Linked DNA regions of Homo sapiens. The protein of the gene in region 4 interacts with the protein of the main gene of each other region in a biochemical or structural test. Each region holds a gene or a part of one and is shown on either strand. Other genes may lie near its edges.

Region 1 (3,500 bases), on a different chromosome or scaffold from region 4:
CACTTTATAATTCCAGTCATATAAAAGTCAAAATCAGGCAAACAATCTATGATGTTATAAATCAGGTTAGCAACTACTTTTGGAGGGTAGTAGTGACTGAAAGGGAACATCAGGGTGTCCCTGGGGTTCTGTGATGTTGTGTTTCTTTATCTGAGGGTGGATTATACAGAATTGTTCAGTTTGTGAAAATTCATCAAGCTGAACACTTAGGATTTGTGTGCTTTTCTATGTTAATGTTATATTTCAGTTAAAAATTCACAATATGTGTGTGTGTGTCTGTGTGTGCGTGTGTGACAGAAAGAGATGCATTTAATATTTTTTTCATGCTATATTTTAGTTTTTCAGAAATTTCATTTACTTGGAGTTAAGGCTTTGACATTCTGGAAATTTTAATTATGCAGGACAGTGTTATTTATGAGCTGTGAAGTGGGTTATGTCCAAAGAAAAATGCACTAGGAAGTTCCTTAAATGGAAATCATTTAAGGAAATCTCTTTGAACAGAACAACTAGAGAGCTGATTTTTATTTCCTCCATTCAGAAAATAAGCCCTCTACTGAATACTCTGATAAAAAACAAAACAAAGAAAAACATACTTTACATGATACCCTCTGATCCCTGGTTCATTTGGGAAGCTTATAATCAAAACAGGCTTATGAACCCTTAGCCACTGATTTGCCTAGCTGATAATTTTCAATATATTGGCCAAAAAGTTCCCTGCTGGAGACTAGATGCAATGGTTTCTGGCTCTTAATTATCTTCTGCTCTTAGACTTGTCAAAACAAACTTTATTGGTAGTTCATCCTTTTTAAAGTGCAGAATTCAGTGACTTTTGTAAATTTATCAACTTGTATAACTATCACCACAGCCCAGTCTTCCCATCACTCCAATAAGATCCTTCATACCTATTTGCAGTCAATTCTCATCCCTACTCTGGTCCCAGGCAACCACTGATCACCCTTTGTTTCTATAGATTTGCCTAATCTGGGCGTTTCTCCTAGGTGTTTTAGAGGGCCATACTTTTCAAGCTTCAGGACTGAAACATATTTTCAAACCCAAACAGCAATGTTGCTAATAACAAAGTAAAACTCCTAACGATTATAATTGTTTCCTAGGGCTACCATGACAAATTGCTACAAGTTTGGTGGATTAGAACCACAAAAATTTATTGTTTCACAGTTCTAGAGGCTAGAAGTCAAAATCAACATTTCAGCATTGCCATACTTATTCTGAAGCCTCTAGGATAAAATCTTTCCTTGCCTCTTCCAGCTTCTGGTGGTTCCAAGTTGCTATGGTTTGGATATTCGACCCCTCCAAATTTTATGTTGATGTGTGATCTCCAGTGTTGGAGGTAGAGCTTAATGGGAGGTATTTGGGTCATAGGGGCGAATCCCTCATTAATGGCCTAGTGCCATTCTCATGGTAGTGAATGAGTTCTCACTCTATGATTTCCCATGAGAGCTGGTTGTTGAAAAGAGCCTGCTATCTCCCTTCCCTCTCTCTTGTTTCTTCTCTCTCACCATACAATTTCTGCACACACTAGCTCCCCTTCCCTTCTGCCATGAGTGGAAGCAGCCTAAGGCCCTCATCAGATGCCGATGCCAGTGCTATGCTACTTGTACAGCCTGCAGAACGGTGAGCTAAATAAACCTCTTTTCTTTATCAATTACCCAGCCTCAGGTATTCCTTAGTAGAGCACAAATGGACTAAGAAACAGGTGTTCCTTGGCCTGTGGTAACATAACTCCAATCTCTTCCTAGGTCTTCACATGGCCTTCTCCTCTGTGTATCTCTCTGTGTCCTCTCATCTTACTAGTCATTGGATTTATGGCCCACTCTCATCTTTCGTGTGATTTCATCTTGATCTTTAACTAATTACATCTGCAAAGATCCTAGTTCCAATAAGGTCACATTCTGAGGTTCTACATGGATATGAAATTTGGGGGACATTATTCAGTCTACTACAATAATGGATTATTTTTGTCTTTCATGTTGATTCATGAAAATTATGTGGCTTTTACTTAGAAAGAGAGAAGTGTGTGCGAATGTGTGTAGCTGAAAATAAGTACCCAAGACACCATAGATCCAATAGATGGGCGGAGATGTCCCCTTGCTTTCAGGTGAACTTCCAGAGAACCAATGGGAAGCCATTTTTTGTGTATCCTGGCATTTGAGGAGGCTCACACCTGCCTGGGAACCCTAAAAACAGAAGGCTGTGGCTATGAACCCAAGAGAGTAGAGCAAAAAGACAGCAGTAGCCTGTACTTCGAGAGAGAGCTACATACAGCTTAATTAACCAGAGCAATCAAGGTTTTGTTTGTTTTCTTATAGGCCAACTCCACTCTTGGGAAAAAGTTGGCTGACAGCCATCTTGAAAGATTGAGGGCTGAAAATCCAAGAACTGAGGATCAAGATCTCTCCCCTGTCATAAAACTACATATGGATCTGCCCTTCAGTAGGAAATTCCTAAAAGTCTCCCATGAGATAAAGAATCAGTGCTGGAAAACTCACTCCGATACCACCACCACCAAATCATGATAGAAACAGCTATGTGTGTCTTTTTTTAATTAGACCTCATCTTCCTTGGAACTAACTCTGAAAGGGCCATGAATCTCAGCCCCCCCAAAATCCCTCCCCAAAAGCATGCTGCCAGGTGATGCAGGCCCAAGCTAGGTGACAGATGTTTAACTTGGAATGATGTTTGCAGTCATGTGATAATAACATTGGATGGAACAATTCAGAGGCTGTTCTTATGATTACAAGTAATGGGGACATTTTTATCATTTGAGAATGACTGCAAAACTATGGAATTTGGCAAAGACTTTATTTGGAAGCAGGGAAGAAAGCCCACTGAATAGCTTTGAAGGGATAATGGAGGGAAAGAATTATGTTGTTTTCTGCTTTTGTCCTATAGAGTTTCATTTCAACACCAGGATACTTCCACAAAGCAGTCTTGGCCATGTTGATGGTAAGGAAAGAATGACAGCTAATAACAGCTGCCTGTTATGTGTGATGCCATCTTAAGGACATCTCCCGCATGCACCCATTTTTTCTTTTTTTTTTTTTGGTGACTATTTATGGGCTTACTGGCTAGGAAAAGACACAACAATGAAATGCAAAAATATGAGATATTACAATGGTTCTATATTTGAATCCGCTATTCAATACCACCCATAGCTATTATCTAGAGCTCATGGTTTTTCTCTCTTTGCTGAGAAGTCTAAATGAATTCCACATTTTCTAGTCTTGAATCTGGCAACTCTTGGTTTATTTAATATATCCTGACCATGAAAAACATTTTTAAAATGTTGACTTACCACTCTGTCTGGGAAGGTGGGAACTCTGTGTTTCTCTTCATTGACTGCAGTATGCAGATTAGCATCTGAACATTAAAACAAAGTAATATCAGAAGGAACTTTAAACAAAACAAAGAGAAACACTCAATGTTATGAATTAAAAGAATGAACCAGCTTGTGTGAGCAATACTCCAGATTAAGTGAATCC
Region 2 (3,500 bases), on a different chromosome or scaffold from region 4:
CAGAGTGACAGGTGAAGGGGTCAGTCTGAGAGTTCACCAGGACCTGGAAACTAGGAGGTTGTGAGTTTGAGACCTCTAGGATCTGGGACTATGAGTTTGGGTGGATCTCACCTGGGAAGTAGGGACGTGGGAGATGAGTGTGTCTGAAACCCCTGGTGGTTGGGATTGGGAGGCTGGGTGAAACTGTCATCCTTGGGTGCTGACTACATCTGAGATCCATGGGGCTGACTGTGTCTGAGAATCCTGGAGCTCCCAAGCTAGAATCTGGGTGAGCATGAGACTTCTTATGGATGGGAGCTGAGTGAGTTTGAACCGCGTAGCAGCTAGGGCCAGGAGTCTAGTCGTGCCTGAGATCTTGTACGCTGGGATAGAGGGGTTGACTGTGTCTGAGGCCCCTGAGGGTAGTGACCTGGCGTCTGGGTGAACCTGAGATTGCTGTTGGCTGGATAGTCTGAGACCCACAGGTGCTGAGAACATGCTGCTGGGTGGTCAAACAGAGAGTCTGTACGGTTATATGCACCCCAGGAGAGGCTGAGGTGTAAAATGGGCTCCCCTGGTCTCCACAGAGCTTGGCAGAGCTGAGAGATCAGCGGCAGGGGGAGCGCCTGGAACATGCAGCAGCTTTGCGGGCCCTACAAGATCAGGTATATTGTACTGCGTGGGCTCAGGGAGCTGGGGTTCAGGATGGGGGCAGCCTGAGTGGGTACTACATAGTCAGGCAAGGTCCCAGGGATCCTGCTTCCCCCAGGCCTTCGTGTGTGTGTGTGTGTGTGTGTGTGTGTGTGTGTGTGTGTGTGTGTGTGTGTGTGTCCTTTCTTTCTTGGTCGTGGGTAGGTCCTGTCCCCCTGTTCTGGACCCACTCTCACCTGCTGTGGACGTGGGGCCAGGTATCCATCCAGAGTGCAGATGCACAGGAACAAGTGGAAGGGCTTTTGGCTGAGAACAATGCCTTGAGGACTAGCCTGGCTGCCCTGGAGCAGGTAAAGAACACCTGGGGGCCCTTGCTGATCCCTCTCCAGTTCCCCCATCTCCATCTGCTTCTGGTCCACATCAGGGTAGGGTGGTCTGGACCCCATGCTGTTCTCCTGTCTTTGTTTCTGTTGCTCCTTTCTGTTGGCGTCCAGCCCTCTTCTCTCTGGCCATCCATCCCTACTTTTTTTTTTTTTTAACTTTTAAAAATTTTATTGGGGAGGCTGAGGCAGGAGAATTGCTTGAACCAGGACCCAGGAGGCAGAGGTTTCAGTGAGCCGAGATCGCACCACTGTACTCCAGCCTGGGCGACAGAGCAATACTCTGTCTCAAAAAAAAAAAAAAAAAAAAAAGGGCGTGGTGGCTCATGCCTGTAATCCTAGCACTTTGGGAGGCCAAAGATGTGTGGATGGCCTGAGCTCAGTTCAAGACCAGCCTGGGCAACACGGTGAAACCCCATCTCTACTAAAATACAAAAAATTAGCTGGGTGTGGCGGTGTGTGCCTGTAATCCCAGCTACTCGGGAGGCTGAGACAGGAGAATCTCTTGAACCCAGGAGGCGGAGGTTGCAGTAAGCCGAGATCGTGCCATTGCACTCCAGCCTGGGCAACAGAGCGAGACTCCGTCTAAAAAAAAAAAAAAAAAAAAAGCCGGGCATGGTGGCTCAATTCTGTAATCCTAGCACTTTGGGAGGCCGAGGAGGGCGGATCACCTGAGGTCAGGAGTTCGAGACCAGCCTGACCAACATAGAGAAACCCCGTCTCTACTAAAAATACAAAATTAGCTGGGTGTGGTGGTGGGCACCTGTAATCCAAGCTACTCGGGAGGCTGAGGTGGGAGAATTGCTTGAGCCCAGGAGGTGGAGTGTGCGGTGAGCCGAGATCGTGCCATTGCACTCAAGCCTGGGCAACAAGAGTGAAACTCTGTCTCAAAAAAACAAAAAACAAAACGAAAAAAAACTTATTGGCCGGGCATGATGGCTCACACCTGTAATCCCAGCACTTTGGGAGGCAGAGGTGGGCGGATCACCTGACATCAGGAGTTTGAGACCAGCCTAGCCAACATGGCAAAACCTTGTCTCTACTAAAAATACAAAAATTAGGCCAGGCGCAGTGGCTCACGCCTATAATCCCAGCACTTTGGAAGGCTGAGACGGGCGGATCACCTGGGGTTCGGAGTTCGAGACCAGCCTGGCCAATATGGTGAAACCCCGTCTCTACTAAAAATACAAAAAAAAATAGCTGGGCATGGTGGCGCACACCTGTAATCCCAGCTACTCGGGAGGCTGAGGCAGGAGAATTGCTTGAACCTGGGAGGTGGAGGTTATAGTGAGCCGAGATTGTGCCACTGCACCCCAGCCTGGGTGACAGAGTGAGACTCCATCTCAAAAAAGAGAAAACAAAATTATTTTGTAGAGACAGGGTCTCACTATGTTACCCAGACTGGCTTAAACTTCTGGCCTCAAGCTATCTTCCCACCTCGGCCTTCCAAAGTGCTGGGATTATAGGTGTGAGCCACTGTGCTTGGCCTATCTCTGCTTTTTTTTTTTTTTGTAGACGGAGTTTCGGTCTTGTTGTCCAGGCTGGAGTGCTATGGCACGATCTCGGCTCACTGCAACCTCCGCCTCCCAGGTTCAAGCGATTCTCCTGCCTCAGCCCTCCCAAATAGCTGGGACTACAGCCGTGTGCCACCATGCCCAGCTAATTTTTGTATTTTTAGTAGAGACGGGGTTTCACCATCTTGGCCAGGCTGGTCTCGAACTCCTGACCTCATGATCCACCCGCCTCGGCCTCCCAGAGTGCTGGGATTACAGGCATGAGCCACCGCGCCCGGCTTCTGCTTTTCTTTGTTTCTAGTTTCTCTCTAGTAAAGTGCATGAAATGTACTAATCTTAAGTGTACACTCAGTGAATCCTCTCTTCGTCTCTCTCTTTTTTTTCTCTCTCTCTCCCCGCCACCATAGCCACCACCCAGATCAAAGTATAAAGCACTTTTAGTACCCCAGAAGGTCCCCTTTACCCCTTCAAAGTCAGTACTCCCCCAGAAGTAACCATTATTCTGATCTCTAGCAACATAAGATTCATTTCGCTTGTTCTTTAACTTCATATAAATGGAATCAGCTGCTCTTTGTCTCTGACTTCTTTCTGGCAGCACTATGTAAGTTTATCCACGTGGCAGCACAGATCTGTTCTCTTACTGTTGTGTGGTATTCCATTGTATGAACATACCACATTTACCCATTCTCTTCATTGTTTTTCTGTTTGAAATTTCCTCTCTCTTCCTGGTTCTCTTCCCACCTCCCTCCCTGTTTCCCTGGAACTAGGGGGCTCATACCCTGTCCCTGGCCCCTGGGGTCCCTTTCACTCTACTTCTCATCACCACTACTTTCTCCAGATCCAAACAGCAAAGACCCAAGAACTGAATATGCTCCGGGAACAGACCACTGGGCTGGCAGCTGAGTTGCAGCAGCAGCAGGCTGAGTACGAGGACCTTATGGGACAGAAAGATGACCTCAACTCCCAGCTCCAGGTA
Region 3 (3,500 bases), on a different chromosome or scaffold from region 4:
CTGAGTAGCACATGCAGACCTGCAGGCCAGGCTCCCCAGAAAGGCACCCCCTTCTGACTTCAGTGCCCCTCCATCCACACTGCTGCTCCCCTGCCCGATGCTGTGACCCTGACCACTGCCTCTCACCTAGATGGGAACGGCACCTCATCACAGTCCCACCCCACAGACTGTCCCCACACAGCGCCCTATGGAAATGGGGGCAGAACACAGGCCTCGTCTGCCCAGCGTTGGCAGCCCCTCACAGGATGGCCTCTGTCTCCCCAGCTGGCCTCCCTCCCTGGAAGGCAGCTGGGGAGGGCAGGGGATCTTCCCTGCCCCGCAGGGACCCTCACCAGGATCTTGAAGGCATCCACGGAGACCTGGTTCTCCATGGAGTCCAGCGAGGGCCGGCGGGCACCGGAAGAGGAGTAGCTGACCGGGAAGGCCTGGGCGGGCCTCCGGAAGGTCATCTCAGCTGAGGAGATGGGTGGCTTGTGGGCAAACTTGTGGTAGCAGTGGATGCAGAAGGCAGACAGCAGCACCGAGACGATGAAGGAGAAGAGGACAGCGGCTGCGATCACCGTGCGGCACAGCTCGTCGCACAGTGGATCTGTGGGTGGGGGTGGTGTGAGGCTTGGCACCGCCAGAGGCTCGGCACCACTGGGTACAGGCTGCGTATGCTCTGCCTCATGGCTCTCCAGCCTGCCGTGTCCGCGCCAGCTGGGAAGTGGCCATGGAGGTGTGGGAAGGCCTGAGAACACCCCATCGAGCATGGGTACTGCCATTTACTGCCCCCTCCTAGACCACTATTGCCCTCTTACAGATGGAGACAGAGGCTCAGAGAGGCTGAGCAGCCTGCCAAGGTCACACAGCAGAGGCTGTGCTCATTACACCAGCTGGCACTGGAGGGCTGGCAGGGGAGGTCAAAATTTTCCTCTGTTCCAAATGTCTTTGGCATTTTCTTTATGAAAATGCTAAGTGGCTAGGGACGTAGGGCTATATAATACCAGAAAACTCAATGACAGAAACGTGTCCCTATGCTCAGGCAGAACAGCACCCCTGAGTGTAGTCAGTGTGGCTGTGCAACCCACCATACCTGCTGACCTTGAAATGTGTTCCTGGGTGGGTCCCAGCTGCATGGTCACAGGGACAGTGACTTGTCAGGCTGACAAGTTGTTTGGTGGAAGAACTGCTTTTCTGGCCTGTCCATCATAGAACTTATGGCCAGAAGACACTTTACAGGGGCCCTGGCCCCTCTCCTGGGTGGAGTAACAGAGGCCCAGAGGGAGGGAGGGAAGTTTCATGGGGCCCACTCGCCTCCCAGCAATTTCCTCCCTTGTTGGGACCTCAGATGTGCTGTTGAGACCTCTGTGGGGCTGGGAGGTGGTGGTGGTCCCGGCCGCCACCCACTCACCCTGGATGTCTTCGGGCTCGCAGAAGCACTTCTCCTCCTCAGGGAAGCAGTTGCAGGTGCCATAGCCAGCTTTAATCCCCCGGGGCTCCCCAGGCTCGTGTCCCCCAACAATGCTGCCCCCTGAGGGCAGACGTAGCCCACTCAGCCTCCTGGGGCGCCTGACCACCCCAGGCGCCCATATTTCCAGGGCAGTGTCCCAAGGAGCCCCCTCCCCAACTGGTGTCGCAAGCATAGGCCCAGTGAGGCCAGGGGCCCAGCAGCTTGGCTTAGCCGGGCAGGGCTTGGTCACAGTGCCTTTCTGAAGCCATGGGTGAAGCCAGGCCCCCTCCTAACATTTCATCTGAACAAAGGACTCTGCCTCCAAAACTGGAGCCTGGTGGCCTGACCCGCACATTGCAGTGTCCCTCGTCTGGCTCAGGGCCGCACTTTCCCTGTCAGTGTCCCTACTGACCATTCTCTGCTTCTGAAATCTGTGTGTGCCGACTTCTGGGACCTCAGCAGGGGCCTGGACAGTCTGTGGGTCCCTGCCTTCCCCCTGTCCCTGACCCTGCCTGCTCCCTCCCCATGGCTAGGGTGATGCTGAAATGCACAGGAGGCTCAGCTTGATGCATAGAACTGACAGCCCTGGCAACTCTGGCTGAAGTGCCTGTGGGATCCAGGTTTCCCCTACTATCTCCTACCTGTTCCCATGCCCTGATTAAACCCTGCTTACGGAGGCAGTCCTGAGGGCAAATGTTGATGTCTTGGGTCTCCACAACATCGCAGTGGCCGTCGGGGCAGGTCTTGGTGCTGGGAGAGCAGGTGGAGAAGTTCCTGGTGATCCCTGCACAGGACACACAGCAGGCTGTCACCCATGTGGGAGCCCCGCCACACGCCCCCACCACCTCCTAGGCAGATCCTGCCCCTCTAGGGAGGAGCAACTGGAGGCCTGAGTAGGGAAACACCATATACAGAGCCTTGCCAGCGGAAGCATCCTGGGGAGCCATGGCTTATGGGAGAGGAGGTATGGGGGGTTCCTCACACAGGTGGCCCTTACAGCAAAGAGGCCGGGACCCTCTCAGGGCTGCATGGTGAGGGCCCCTCATGGTGGTGGGCACACCCAGGCTGGCCTCTGGCTGATGCAGACAATGAGTCCCCTGCCCACACCACATCCCCTGGCCGAGGACCTCCCAGAAAAACGCCATTCTGTCCCCAGCACATCCCAACTTTGGTTCAGACCTTCCCAAGTCCAGAGTGAATCCGGCCTGGGGACCATTCACTGTACTCACAAGCCCTCTCCCAAGCCCTGCACTGCTGCCCGCTATGCTGGCATCGAGAGCCACATGGGGGATGAGGTGCCAGAAGCAGACCTGGAGCAGGGAGAGCCACCCCAGGCTGGCAGGGCCCCAGGACCCCGTTTCCACCGGTGCCATCGCCCCTGCAGGCCTCCCTTGGGCGTTTCCAGGGCTTACCTTTGCCATCTCCTTGCCTCCACTCACACCTGCCTGTTGGGGAGCCCAGGCCGCCACACTCCTCACACTCCAGCCGTCTCTTGCTGACTGCACAGGACAGGGGGCAGCCCGCCTCCTCGGCCACATCTGCAGGTGGCAGACAAGCAGGGTCACAGGGGGCTGGCCTGGGCCCAGCGTCCAGCTAGTGCCCAAGGACAGGGAACAGCACCAGCTGAGCTGCCCACGGATGGAGCCCAAGGGGACCGGAGTGACAGACCCAGGGCAGCAAAGACAGTGCCAGGAGCACAGGGCGCAGGGCAGGGTACAGGACATCATGGTCACAAAGCAGGGGTCACCTGGGCTGGGGTAAGTACAGGAGGAAGGATGTGAGTGCAGCCAGATTCAGCCAACGACGCCCTGTGGGACCTACATTTCAGATACACAATGAATGGCATGAATGGCAGCTGTGTCAGCATGTTCCTAAGAGGGCATGGATGGACCTAGAGGTGTGTCTTTCGAGAAGCTGCAAAAGTTGCATGGAACACACCTATACCAAAAAACTGCTTGTTGTTTACCCAAAATTCAAATTTACCCAAGGTCCTGTATGTTATCTGGAAGGAGCAACCATTTACTGCTGGGTCACTCAGGGTGAAGCTGGTCCATGCCTTCCCCACTCC
Region 4 (2,626 bases):
AAAGATGTATAAAAAGGATCATTGTAAGTAGCACAGTGTTCCAATCAGATTTCACCTTATTTTAATACTGACTTAGCCAAGAAACAAATTGCTTTGAGTGTCCTACTTGTCTACAGAGCATCTGAATAAAGTATAATAAACACACTACCAAGTATTGGTCCAAAAAGGGAAAATAGTATATTTATCATACTTTTTTTTCTAGGTTAACTATTAGACCCATTGCTTTTAACTTAGAGGTACTTTGCTTGGAAAGATGCCTAGAGGATAAGATAAACCATATTGAGCATATTTTAAAATGCAACACTGCTTAAGAATACATTTACCTAAAGTTTCCAAACTCTCCGACACCCTTAGCTGTGTGAGTAAATGGTGGTATAATCCACAAATGTTTATTTAGATGATGACGTGTGCAGCAGAACAGTAAAAACGTGGAGGTTAACGGCACATTCATGTATCGTTTTTTACCTTCTTTTCTCCCACTCCACATCTATCCTCTTGTATACTAGTCATGTTTATCTTTTTTATTTACTACCTTTCAAATAACTCCTGAGAAACGTACCTCTCTTCTTCTCTAAGATGCAGGGGAAGCTCTGACTTGGCCTCTGTTGCCACGTAATATTCTACCTGATATTAGTAGCGGAGATCTACCTGATAAAGTCCAATGAATGACATCGTGCTAGTCTACTCTACATATGCATATTTTCTTTTCTTTTTTTCCTTTGAGACGGAGTCTCACTCTGTCGCCCAGGCTGAAGTGCAGTGGTGCGATCTTGGCTCACTGCAACCTTTGCTTCCCAGGTTCAAGCGATTCTCCTGCCTCAGCCTCCCCAGTAGCTGGGATTACAGGCGTGTGCCACCATGCCCAGCTAATTTTTCTGTATTTTTAGTAGAGATGAGGTTGGCCAGGCTGGTTTTGAACTCCTGACCTCAAGTGATCCACCTGCCTCGGCCTCCCAAAGCGCTAGGATTACAGGCGTGAGTCACTGTGCCTGGCTATATATGCATATTTTCTAGCCAAACTTTTGGCTAAAGACAACTTTTTGAGACTTCTCTTTGATGAAGGTTCCCTAAAATATAGACAAGTTTTGATATCTTTAGGGATATCAAAATCTTGACAGTCTCTGAAACACACTTTTCATTGTATAATTCTATGATCAGTCACAGTTAATTCATTTAAAATCCACATGTAACATTCATTATGTGTAACGTTCTCACCAGGTGCTGTGGAGTATGCATACAAGAAGTCGGCCTCCACTGGTATTTTATGACACGCCATGTCATCATCAACACCACTGTCTGTCTCAATGCCACAGTCCAGTTCTGTACCACGGCAGGCCTGGGTGTTAGAAAATAAATATTTATTTATAAAAATTTGTGTGTGAACACATAACTTAGTTCTAAAAAATTGAAATGCTATGTAAAAATGGATGTTAATTGGCCGGGCGCGGTGGCTCACGCCTTTAATCCCAGCAATTTGGGAGGCCAAGGCGGGCGGATGACTTGAGGTCAGGAGATCGAGACCATCCTGGCTAACATGGTGAAACCCTGTCTCTATTAAAAAAAAATTTAAAAATTAGCTGGGCCTGGTGGCAGGCGCCTGTAGTCCCAGCTACTCAGGAGGCTGAGGCAGGAGAATGGCGTGAACCCAGGAGGCAGAGCTTGCAGTGAGCGGAGATCGCGCCACTGTACTCCAGCCTGGGCGACAGAGCAAGACTCTGTCTAAAAAAAAAAAAAAAAAAAAAAAAAAGGATGTTAATTATGCTGAGTCTTTTTGATATAAGTATAAAATTAAAATTTACTCTATATCTTTTAAGTGGTAAATAAATGAAAAGTAACAATAGTTCATTAGCTTCAGGAAAAAAATTATCCTTTGGATAATTTACAGTTGAGAATAGTAACCCCTGCTTAATCGTCAATAACCAAATCACTCAGTTAGACATTACCTGAATAATGAAAAGTTTGGGTTTTCCAGTTAGACTTCTACAACGATCCCCTCTGAAAAAGTTTGTTATTTTTTTCAGGTCAACAGGTCCATTTGTTCCAAAAATTATTCCTTCTTCACCATGGCTCAGAAGCACACAAACAAAACTGCTCCTTTTGCTGTGATCTTCTTTAGAAACTGTAAAGACATTTGCAAATAAAAGGAAAAAAAATCCATGACTTTATTCAACAACTTCAGATATACTGTATGGGAACATGATGAAGAAACTGAGACTAAAACTAAGAGGTCATCTTAACCTAACCTGGGGCACGGCAACACATCTCAAACCATTTTAGGAAGTTGGCATAAATAACTTTTTTTAAACTTCTTACTAAAGTATGTAAGATTAGGGTTATGTACAGTATAATTCCACAATTCTCATATTTTATTATACATATAATTATTGCTAGACCATAGTATAAAATTAATTGTACAATGAAGTTCATTCTAATTGTTTCTTCTTACCATCACGCATCAATTCCACAATTTCTTCACGTGTAAGATCATTTTTATTCCTGACTTCATATTTCAAGTTTCTGAATGTTTCCCTGAGGTTTGCTGCATCGACATCTGTACCAGACCGAGATGTCATTCCTTGGAACAGAAAGAATTACTTTTAATTGTATGGAAAACAAAGAATAACTA

The links. Proteins that work in one complex are often made in the same cells at the same time.
Region 1: of the proteins of CASP3 (region 4) and BMX, one has a biochemical effect on the other in vitro, tested with the Homo sapiens proteins (one study listed by BioGRID).
Region 2: of the proteins of CASP3 (region 4) and GRIPAP1, one has a biochemical effect on the other in vitro, tested with the Homo sapiens proteins (one study listed by BioGRID).
Region 3: of the proteins of CASP3 (region 4) and RET, one has a biochemical effect on the other in vitro, tested with the Homo sapiens proteins (one study listed by IntAct).

What each region holds. Positions count from the first base shown.
Region 1 is NC_000023.11:15,517,807-15,521,306, reverse strand, and holds part of BMX (cytoplasmic tyrosine-protein kinase BMX), read right to left. Parts: intron 3,379-3,500; coding exon 3,314-3,378; intron 3,111-3,313; exon of another isoform or gene 2,380-3,110; coding exon of another isoform or gene 2,328-2,379; intron 1-2,327. UniProt on the Homo sapiens protein: Non-receptor tyrosine kinase that plays central but diverse modulatory roles in various signaling processes involved in the regulation of actin reorganization, cell migration, cell proliferation and survival, cell adhesion, and apoptosis.
Region 2 is NC_000023.11:48,985,265-48,988,764, reverse strand, and holds part of GRIPAP1 (GRIP1-associated protein 1), read left to right. Parts: intron 1-566; coding exon 567-644; intron 645-887; coding exon 888-980; intron 981-3,362; coding exon 3,363-3,497; intron 3,498-3,500. UniProt on the Homo sapiens protein: Regulates the endosomal recycling back to the neuronal plasma membrane, possibly by connecting early and late recycling endosomal domains and promoting segregation of recycling endosomes from early endosomal membranes.
Region 3 is NC_000010.11:43,111,569-43,115,068, reverse strand, and holds part of RET (proto-oncogene tyrosine-protein kinase receptor Ret isoform a precursor), read right to left. Parts: intron 2,971-3,500; coding exon 2,845-2,970; intron 2,217-2,844; coding exon 2,106-2,216; intron 1,514-2,105; coding exon 1,394-1,513; intron 590-1,393; coding exon 333-589; intron 1-332. UniProt on the Homo sapiens protein: Receptor tyrosine-protein kinase involved in numerous cellular mechanisms including cell proliferation, neuronal navigation, cell migration, and cell differentiation in response to glia cell line-derived growth family factors (GDNF, NRTN, ARTN, PSPN and GDF15).
Region 4 is NC_000004.12:184,629,822-184,632,447, forward strand, and holds part of CASP3 (caspase-3 isoform a preproprotein), read right to left. Parts: intron 2,576-2,626; coding exon 2,447-2,575; intron 2,120-2,446; coding exon 1,944-2,119; intron 1,337-1,943; coding exon 1,216-1,336; intron 1-1,215. UniProt on the Homo sapiens protein: Thiol protease that acts as a major effector caspase involved in the execution phase of apoptosis. Following cleavage and activation by initiator caspases (CASP8, CASP9 and/or CASP10), mediates execution of apoptosis by catalyzing cleavage of many proteins.